Homo sapiens: one gene and its partners. The protein of the gene in region 1 purifies or fractionates together with the protein of each later gene. This does not show direct contact. Each region holds a gene or a part of one and is shown in the gene's direction. Other genes may lie near its edges.

The links. Proteins that work in one complex are often made in the same cells at the same time.
Region 2: the proteins of TGFBI (region 1) and KIF13B purify together in Homo sapiens (affinity purification with mass spectrometry; one large-scale study listed by BioGRID and IntAct). This does not show direct contact.
Region 3: the proteins of TGFBI (region 1) and SULF2 purify together in Homo sapiens (co-immunoprecipitation; one large-scale study listed by IntAct). This does not show direct contact.

Annotation. Positions count from the first base shown.
Region 1 is NC_000005.10:136,035,488-136,038,987, forward strand, and holds part of TGFBI (transforming growth factor-beta-induced protein ig-h3 precursor), read left to right. Parts: intron 1-3,500.
Region 2 is NC_000008.11:29,071,071-29,074,570, reverse strand, and holds part of KIF13B (kinesin-like protein KIF13B), read left to right. Parts: intron 1-2,254; coding exon 2,255-2,951; intron 2,952-3,500. UniProt on the Homo sapiens protein: Involved in reorganization of the cortical cytoskeleton. Regulates axon formation by promoting the formation of extra axons. May be functionally important for the intracellular trafficking of MAGUKs and associated protein complexes.
Region 3 is NC_000020.11:47,666,982-47,670,481, reverse strand, and holds part of SULF2 (extracellular sulfatase Sulf-2 isoform a precursor), read left to right. Parts: intron 1-3,500. UniProt on the Homo sapiens protein: Exhibits arylsulfatase activity and highly specific endoglucosamine-6-sulfatase activity. It can remove sulfate from the C-6 position of glucosamine within specific subregions of intact heparin.

The DNA of each region.
Region 1 (3,500 bases):
GGTGGCGGGCACCTGTAGTCCCAGCTACTCGGGAGGCTGAGGCAGGAGAATGGCGTGAACCTGGGAGGCGGAGCTTGCAGTGAGCCAAGATCGTGCCACTGCAGTCCAGCCTGGGTGACAGAGTGAGACACCGTCTCAAAAAAAAAAAAAAAAAAAGAAAAGAAAACCTTTAGTACTGATTGATTTTTTCCCATGTGTGTATATTATCTACTCAAATTAACAATTAATTACTTAATTAAACACAAAGCCAGGCCTCACCTAATTGCTTCTTGGAAGGTGACCAGAGTGCTAGTGCCAAGCAAACAACTCTTCTATATCTCAAGAGCCCTGGGCTTCAGAGGGCCATCTTTTTTGTTAATTCAAGTTTCTCTGAAAATGGAGACCCGTTTATGATGACAAGCTGGCTACAGGGTAGCATCTGCCACACTGTTTCGGGGGTGCCGCTGGGCTGAAGCATTTGCCCAGCTAGTTAACAATAGCTCGATAACATTCCCTATCAGTGTCCAGGCTGAGAATACTGTCAGTGATGAGTCGCCTTGGCTCTTGTACCTGTATCTTTGTGTGCCAGGACAAGGCACAAGCAACAGAGCTGTGTGTTGCCAAAATGTTCCTGATGAGCAGGTCAACCCCTCGGGGGCAGGTTTGGATATGATAATGTGGTGATGTGGTGGCGCAGCTCCCTTACCCAGTGAGCACAAGGGGAGTCCTCTAGGAAAAGGAAGAAATGTCTGGATGAGGTGGGGAGATGGGGTTCAGAGTGGACTCAGGCAAAGCCCGATGCCCAGTCCCAGCTGTTGGCCTAGTCTCACAAAGCCAGAAGGATATGACATTTACATTCAACTCTTGAATTTGTGGCCACTGCTTTGGGCAACTTCAAAGAGAGAAAATGAAGATAGAAAAATATTATTTGATATAAAACTTCTAGGACAAGAGAGGCCCTTCCTGGAACATTACATGTAGTATTAGGAAGGTGGAGCTGCCCTGGAAAAGATCCAGAGAACTCAGAGAGAGGAAGAGGTGGAACCCATCTCTGTTCTTGTAGAGAGCTCAGTAAGAGTGGCTTGGCAGGGCTCCTGTGTACCTGAGACCAAGACCAGTGAGGAGGCTACTGTCTGACCACCATACGGTCAGAATTCAGTGCCATGGGTGGTCAGGTGGGAAGGGGAGAGGACTGTGCTGGCTGGAGTTGATGTTATCCTGGGGAAAGTAGGTCCCTAGATGCCTTTAGTTGAGTGAGGAGCAGACTGGGAAATGGGAGCACAGTAGTGGTTGGGGCAAAAAGGACTGTCTCTGCATGAGGTCCATAGGCAGTTGGAATTTTCTCAGCAAGACTCCAGAGAAGGAGGCTGGAGCAGAGGTGTATGTTGGGATGAAAAGGAGTAAAGTATCATGGGGGAGGAGGCAGCTCAGGTTGTCAAGGGTCAAGAAACCAGAAGGAGAATTTCACCTTGGAAGCAGACAACGGGTACCAAGCATACAGGGGAATACTTTGTGGTGAGAGGTCACACAGAGATACAGGAGCCGACCTGGTGAGACAGGAGCCTGGAGCCACCTGCCTGCTTTTGTGAGGCCCCAGACTCCACTGCTATCATCAGGTGAAGCTCTGTTGCCTGCACACAAAAGCTTTTCTGCATTTACAAAGAGAGAAGGGCCTGAGTTTCTGGTGCAATGCGTCAAGCTGACATATGGACTTTATTACAGGAAGTGGTTACCAGTGGGTCCCTATTTAGTGGCTGTTATTGTGAATTTTATTGTTCGGAAATTCACTTTAGCATTTATTTCAGATCCTAAATAGCACCGGAGTGATACAATGGCTAATCAAACAAAGAGGGCTGTGGGGAGCAGACAGTCAGCATCCCCCTCTGTGATTTCAGGCCCTGGTTTGATTAGTAGCCATAAAATTTTTTACGTGTGGCACTTTGAGCAAAGGTGCAGGAAATTGTGGTCAGGAAGCCTGGCTGCCTCTCGACAGGCTTCCTTTGTGCTAGCCCCAGGGAGAGGAGGCCTATTTAACAGCCAAGTCCAAGTTGACATCATGGGACTGGAATAGTCATAGCAGGAGCTCAGACATCATAAACGTGGCATAGGGAGGGCTGGTGGAGGAGCTAGCGGGTATGGGTGGCAGCTATTCATTCCAAAAGTCTTGAAATTGTTTCACGAGCAACACATTTCACAAGTGCGAAGCCCTTCTCTGGAGCCAAGATGAGCTGGCAGAGCACTCCTGTTTCTCTAGTAGCAAGTGTTCCTTTGCCCAGGGGCAAAAATATTAATACTCCTTCAGCACTGCATTAATGCTTAAAGATTTAACTTTTAAAGAGATCAGCTGGTGCATGGTCGAGCTTTTCCATCAGCTGGCAGGGCTTTTTCAGTAGGTGTCCTTCTGGGCAGGGCACTGGGGACAGCTGACGTGAAGGTGAAGAAGAGCTGTCGTTTTCCTCCCTTATATCCCACAACCTTGGTCCCAAGAGGAAAAAAAAGAAGATGGTGAGAAGTCATCCAAGCAGACCCCAGACCCATACTAGTGCCTCCTTTCCTGTTTCATATCCCTGTGCAGCCAGCTGGGATCTCTTGAATAATCTGCTCTGGGGGCACTGAGATTGGACATACACCAAACAGCGGAGATCGACCAAACGCCTCTGTTGGGCAGTGTTTCCTGAGGGTTCTGTCCCATTCTGTAAACTAGGAGGCTGACTAGCTGACAAGGAATTTTATTCTGTTGGGTATTTACATGAACCTATGTGCCACCTGGGGTAAGACCCTGTGGTAGGTAGAAACATGACTTCCCAAAAATGTCCACATCCTAATCTCTAATTCTGTAAATATATTCCCTTACTGGAAAAAGAGACTTTGCAGGTGTGATTAAATTAAGGATCATAAGAGGGAGAGATTATCCAGGATTATTTGATGAGTCTAATATAATCATCAGGGTACTTAAAAGAGGGAGGCAGGCTGTGCCTGGTGGTTCACGCCTTTAATCCCAGCACTTTGGGAGACTGAGGCGAGCGGGTCACGAGGACAGGAGTTGGAGACCAGCCTGACCAACATGGTGAAACTCCCCCTCTAGTAAAAAAAAAAATACAAAAATTAGCCAGGCATGGTGGTACACACCTGTAATCCCAGCTACTCAGGAGGCTGAGGCGGGAGAATTGCTTGAACCCAGGAGGCAGAGGTTGTGGTGAGCTGAGATCGCACCACTGCCCTCCAGCCTGGGCAACAGAGCAAGACTCCATCTCAAAAAAAAAAAAAGAGGGAGGCAGTGGGATCAGAGTCAGAGAAGGCAACGTGATGATGAAAGCTGACATTTGAGTGATGCAACCACAAGCCAAGGAATGCAGGCAGCTTCTCAAAGCTGGAAAGGACGAGCAATGGATTCTTCCCTACAGCCTCTGTGAGGAATGCAGCCTTTGATTTTAACCCCATAAGGCCGATTTCTGACTCTAGCCTCTGGAATTGTAAGATAATTTGCATGATCTCAAGCCACTAAATTTGTGGTAATTTGT
Region 2 (3,500 bases), on another chromosome or scaffold:
TGGTCAGAGCAAGCCCCTTGCCAGTGAAGGCAGCAGCTTCTGTAGCTCATCATGGTGGTTTTCCAAGCTTGGGCTTTTGCAGAAGTCTCCAGAAATGTCTTCTTCAGTGGCAAGGGTATAATCCATAGATGGCATCTGGGTTTCAACTCACAAATCAACTCCAGTCAAGTGGGGATGGGGCCTGGAGTGCCAGTCTGTGCTTTCCACCATCCTGCTCCCTGCTTTGTTGACTCTGCAGCTCTGCCCCCAGTGCCTGCCTTTTCACTTAGTGCAGCCTTGGATGAGGGCTTTCCCCTCTGGAGGCCTGCTGTAGAATAATGCCATGATCCTTCCAGCCCAGCCCAAGCCAGTGTCTTACATGGAAGCCAATGGGATGATGATACTTGCAAATCTGAGGCATGCAGCTGGCCTCATCCTGGGAGAGCCTGGCCTGGGGAAGTGACAGTGGCTGGCCTTACCCGGGGTGGGGGCGGGGAACAGAAGCCATTTCAGGACCCTGGTTACCGTTCAGATTCCCGGCTCTCATAGTTTTGCGTATTCTCCCCTGTTGGGTCAGTGATATTAAAACTAAAATAGAAGAGAATAAATAAAACATGGACAATGTGCAAAGGAAGAATGATTGAAGGATTGCCTAATCTTTTAGAGTATTTATGCTGGTGACAGTTATTGATCTATTGGATTGAGTAAATTTTGCAGCCTAGAGATTCACCACAAAAATGGGCTGTTAATCTCAAGAGGTGCCATTAATTTCCTACCCTGAAAGTGTGGTTGGTGGGGAAAAGAGGGCCCCTGGAAACGGGAATATAAAGGACAGTTCCTGGGAAAACGCATGATTTATCAAGCTGCTGAGGTAAGCCAAGTAACTGTAAGAGACGTATAGATCTCAGCCGCTTCCCCATTCAAATAAATCCCGTATTTCAAATGGAAAATGACCATTCCTGTAATATAAATAATTTTTCCATAAATATCGGAAAACATATTTCTTCTGGATAGCAGTGCTCTCCACCCCACCAATCTCATTCCCTGTTCCTGCCTTCTCCTTTTCTTCGGTCACTGTGAATAGGAATAGAAAGATGATCTGGCAGCCTCTTCACATGGCTTCAGTTATAGATGAAAGAATGCCCCAGAAACAATAGGATTTGGGCAAGCGGTGGCTGCTCTCCCCCATGAGATGTGGGCTTTGAGTGTGTGTGTGTCCTCTGCCTGGGTGACTCAGACAGAGTGACCGACATGAGGAGAGCTGCTGGCCTCACTTGGTGGCTTCTCCCTGGGGGCTGCTTCCTGGCCTCTCTCCAGGGTCCGAGGCCCCCCCAGCCCCTGACATGGCACCTGCTTTCCATAGCAGCCAGAGCAGCAGCCTTGGAGAGAAAGGGCCACGGCCCACAGGGAGCCTTTGTCCCCTCCTCATCCCCCTCCTCGTCCCCCTCCTCGTCCCCCTCCTCGTCCCCCTCCTCGTCCCCCTCCTCGTCCCCCTCCTCATACCCCTCCTCGTACCCCTCCTCGTCCCCCTGCTGCCTTGCTCGGGATGCCCAGCCAGGCTGCAGGCCCGTGGCTCCTTGTTGGTGCCTGAGCTGGCCAGGCTGTGCTGAGTGTGTTCCGGTCCTCCGATGAGATCATTGTTTAGGTTTTGCCGGACAAAAAAGTGCTCTTCTGGTCTCTTTAGTGACTCAGTCTCTTCGTGAGGTTGGGGGTGGGCAGGGGCTTTGTCTCCATGGGAGGAAAGCTAACTAGCCCTAGCAGGGTTTTAGCGTGCACCTACTGTGTGCTGCCCTCTGTGGCGAGGGGCCTTGGTCTTTGTAGCGTGCTGGCCCTGCATGGCAGGCCCTGGATTCTATTTTGTATGAAAGGTAAAAAGTAGATGGGGCAGGGGCTGTGGCCATGGTCAGTGCTCTTGAGCCTGGGCACACAGCACAGGGCCTGCGGGGTGCACTGTCGGCCCCTCAACCTTTATCACTTTGGAAGCCAGGGCCATGCAGCCCTAAGTGGCAGAACCAGTGTGGGAACCAGGGCCTGGCCGGGTCCCAGCCATGTTCTTTATTTATTTATTTTGTCGAAACGGGGTCTCACTATGTTGCCCAGGCTGTTCTTGAACTCCTGGGCTCAAGCGATCTTCCGTCTTGCCCTCCATAAGCACTGGGGTTACAGGCTGAGCCACTGCCCCTGGCCTCATGCTCTTTTCCAAGTCAAAGCTGCCTGCTTGGTTCGTGTTGGAAAGTTTTCTGTTCTCAGCCCCTGCTTCCCCGTCCTGCTGCAGGCTCAGCCGGAGATGGGCCCTGACGTGCTGGTGCAGACGATGGGGGCCCCGGCCTTGAAGATCTGCGACAAACCTGCCAAAGTGCCTTCCCCACCGCCTGTCATAGCTGTCACAGCGGTCACCCCGGCTCCGGAGGCACAGGACGGGCCCCCCAGCCCCCTGAGTGAAGCCTCTAGCGGGTACTTCTCCCACAGCGTCTCCACCGCGACCCTGTCGGACGCCCTGGGCCCCGGCCTGGACGCTGCGGCCCCGCCGGGGTCCATGCCCACCGCCCCTGAGGCCGAGCCCGAGGCGCCCATCAGCCACCCCCCACCGCCCACGGCCGTCCCCGCCGAGGAGCCCCCTGGCCCCCAGCAGCTCGTGAGCCCCGGTCGGGAGCGCCCCGACCTCGAGGCCCCGGCGCCCGGCTCCCCGTTCCGCGTCCGGAGGGTGCGGGCCTCGGAGTTGCGCTCCTTCTCGCGCATGCTGGCTGGGGACCCCGGCTGCTCCCCGGGGGCCGAGGGGAATGCGCCGGCCCCGGGCGCCGGGGGACAGGCCCTGGCCTCTGATTCCGAGGAAGCTGACGAGGTCCCGGAGTGGCTCCGAGAGGGCGAGTTCGTCACCGTGGGCGCCCACAAAACGGGCGTGGTGAGATACGTGGGGCCTGCCGACTTCCAAGAGGGCACGTGGGTCGGCGTGGAGCTCGACCTGCCCTCAGGTGGGTACCGGGCACTCCGGGCTCCAGGGTGGTGCCGGGGGTCTGGGGAAGCAGGAACGTGGCCGGCCTGGGAGGGGACAGGGTCCGGGCAGGAGAGGGAGGGGCCGGGAGGCAGCGGCTTGGCTGAAGCTGCGGGAGCGGCTGGGCCTGCAGGGGTGAGGCTGGGGGCAGGGCTAGTCCCTGGAGACGACATGGAAAATTCCTGATGATTTTGGCTACAAAGATCCTGTACCCATCCCCCCATCGCCATGGCTGTTCCCGCTTTTGTTCCGGTCTCCCCTGCCCTCTGCACTCCCTGGGCTCTGCTTTCTCATCCTTCACCTTAGAGCATCTCCCCTTTGCCGTTCCAGGAGGCTCTTCCTCACCCCATCCGGACACATCTCGCTGGCCTCTGACTCGCCCTCATTTGGCAGTTTTGCCAGTTTCCATTTCATAGATTCAGCAAAAGAACCATTCTCCCGCCACCCAGCCCAGGCCTGGGTCCAGATGGAGAAGGGTCTGTTCCCGCACGAGGCGGGCCGGTTGTGCCTTAGTGGCTGGCCTGCACCT
Region 3 (3,500 bases), on another chromosome or scaffold:
AGTGGCTCACGCCTGTAATCCCAGCATTTCGGGAGGCCAAGGCAGGCGGATTGCCTGAGCTCAGAAGTTCGAGACCAGTCTGGCCAACAAGGTGAAACCCGTGTCTACTAAAAATACAAAAATTAGCCAGGCATGGTGGTGGGCGCCTGTAGTCCCTGCTACTCAGGAGGCTGAGGCACTAGAATGGCTTGAACCTGGGAGCGGGAGGTTGCAGTGAACTGAGATCATGCCACTTCACTCCAGCCTGGGTGACAGAGCAAGACTGTCTCAAAAAAAACAAAAAGTCTCCATTCTTTATAAGACGGATGATATTGTACCACAGACTAGTTAGAGATTGAGGTCTCTGACGGCAGGCGCAGTGATCTCCTCTGGTCCAGCCAGCCAGGCAGCAAATGTCTTCATCGTGGAGCAGATAAGTCTCTCTCCATAACAGCCCAGCCACTGCCTGAAACACCGTTTCCCAGCTGATGACCCTCCGTTACATTTCCTCACCAGCTGATTAGGAACTACTACATTAACTTTTCTAGCTGAACAGAATGATTGGTTTCCAGATTGGATTACACAGCCAGCATCTCCTTGCTTCAATATGTGGCACAGTCGATAATCTTTAAATAATACAAGATCTGGCAGGGAGAAATTCAGCTCTTTTCCCCTTATTAATGCTTAGAGGAAAGAAAAATACCTAAAAGTAGCTGAGAGTCAGCTCAGCCCTGGTCAGAATCCTCATGTGAGTGTAATGTCAGAGCCGGGACCTGCACCTCTCAACAGCCCTGTGAGCAGGGCAGGGGTGATCATCAGGGGATGATGGACAGGAAAGACTGGGTCACGTGGCTGATTTGGGGACTCCAGCCCCATCTCCTGCCTGGCATTCTTCCCCCTGCTAGAGTCTCCGACAAGACACTCTGTCCCTCTTTTCTGAGCAGTCAGCCTAGAGCAGGCTGAACTGGGGGCTTTCTGTCCCCCAGGGGACACTTGGCAATGTTTGGAGACAGTTTTGGCTGTCACAATTGTGTGTGATGGAGGGGTGCTGCTGGCGTCTAGTGAGCAGAGGCTATGGATGCGGCAAAACATCTTGCAACGCACAGGACGGCCCCCACCACAGAGTTTGATCTGACCCCAAAGTGTCCGCAGTGGTAAGGTTGGGAAGCCCTGGCCCACCTTGATCCACGGGGATCCTGGCTGTGGCGTGGGGAGGTTAGGCAGAGCCAGCCAGCTCACAGCAGAAGGGGGACCCAGGAACAGGAGAAGGGGACGAGGACTCGGGGGATGGGCCCAGCTGACTGGGGTTCATTCATTTCTTGAACTTTGTGCAAGACACTGAGATTAGAGTTGACCTGGAGAGACACGGACTTGGACCTCATGGATGAAACAAGATGTGAACAAGTGAACAAAGGGCCACTTCCGCTGGTGAAAAACGCATGAAGGAGACGCAGCGGTGGCGGGACTAGCAGAGAGGGGTGGCGGCTCCAGAATGGCGCTCAATGGACATTTAATGAGAACAAAGTACAGAAAGGAGCAGGTCTTGTGACCAGCCAGAGAGCAAGTGTTCTGAGGAGGAGGAAGATGGAGTACAAAGACCCTGTGCTCAGAATCAGGGCGGTGAGTCCCAGTCACAGAGAGGTGACCGGTGTGGCCGAGGGTGGTGAGAAGCACCATGGGCATGGGCAGCCACATCACACAGGCGGTCACCGGCGTGGAGAGGCAGGGAGTGGGCCCAGGGTTGTCACCTTAGGTGAGGACGTCAGCTGCAGGCAGAGTCCCCACCCCCTGCAGTAGCTGGTCCACACCAGCTCATCAGGCATGAATGCTTCACTAGTTCCGTTTCGTGCCATCCTCCAAGGAGCCTTTGTAGGGTAGGCACCATCCTGAGAAGTTACCCAAATCGCCGGGGCCACACATGTGCTCAGGGGTTTGCACCTGAGCCATCTGATTGCAGAGTCAAAGCTCTTGGCCGCCGGGTTATGAAGTCCTGTCCCATTCCCTGTTGGTGTGGCAGGAAGGGTACCTCCAGGACTCTGGACATGAACACAGAGTGATGGGGAGAGCAGGTAGTGTGGCTTCAGTCCAGGAAAGGATTCACACAGGGCTGGCATACCGCTTCTGTGAAGAGCCAGAGAGTAAAGGTCTTGGGCTTTGCAACTCAGCCCTGCGACTGCAGAGGTATAAGGGAATGCGAGCAGCTGTACCCAGTGAAACTGTATTCACAAAGACAGATGGAGGCTGGCCTGGGCCCTTAGGCCATGGTTTAGGGACCCCTGAATCTAGAGCTGGGAGATGGAGGGTGGAAAGAGGCAAAGCAGCTCACTTATGAGCCGACTGAGACAAAAGGAGTGGAGAGGACACGCTGGGTCTATTTCCTGAGCCTCTCGGGGCAGGACCTGCTTGGCACAGGGACCATCCTCGGCAATTTGTGTACTTGCATCGGGAGACTAAACCGAGGGAGAGAAGTGCCCAGGAGAAGGCTGCCCTGTGTCAGAAAAGGCCCAAGGCTCTGCTGGAGAGGGGAGGCCTTTCCCGGCCCCTCAGGATCCTTCGGCCCTTGTGACTCTGATGCAAGGTGTCTGAGAACTGAAAGATACAAAACATCCCCCAAGAGTGGGGGTGGCACCCGGGCCACGTGAGAAGGGAGCCCTTTCCTCCCTCCTTCCACTGCCTTCCGCCACCACCTGCCTCCAGCTGGTCCTCTTTGGTCACCATCTCGGGGTCACTTGGGATCCAACAAAACCTGGGTCACTAACTGGCTCCAGGCCCTTCTCTTTAAATGAGGCACATCTGGAGAAGGATGACAACTGCAGTGCGTGCCTGCTGGGGCCAGACATGTGTCAGGTGGGCAGAGGTTTTAAAACAGGAAGGAGTGGCGGGGGCTGTGGCCAACAGGGAAGACAGTGGGCAGCCAAAGGGGCCGCCCATCCCCGGCCCGTCCTGACCATATGGAACTGTGGGCCCGTGAGACATCTGTTTCCTTTCTGGAAGCTGGAAATCTGGATCCCTACATCACCGCCACCACCTCCCCTTTTTCTTTAATGTTACCAACTCAGATTTGTTTTTGAGACATAGAAGATACAGGCTACCTGGGGTGTCACTTCAGCCTGCACCCCTGAGTTTTCAGCGTCAGGGCGTATGCAAAAGCCCCCCTCAGCCTTGTTGCCGGCCCACCTGGGTGTAGCACCTGCCTACCACCTGGTGGGCAGCCTCCAGCTCTCTGGGACTCAAAGAAGCTAAGTGGCTTCCCCAGTCCCCGTCCATTTCTACCCAGAGACAGGCACTGCAGGGCCCCTTTTTCCCAGTTTAAATCAACATTTTTACATCCATGATACTTTTTTTCCTTTTTAATTGAGGTGAAGTTCAGATAACATCAAACTCACCATTTTTACAATTATATACAATGCAGAGGCATTTAATAGGTTCACAGTGTTGCACACCTCTACCTAGTTCCAAAACATTTCATCACCCCAAAAGGGAACCCCGTACCCACAAAGCAGTCACTCCTCACTACCCTC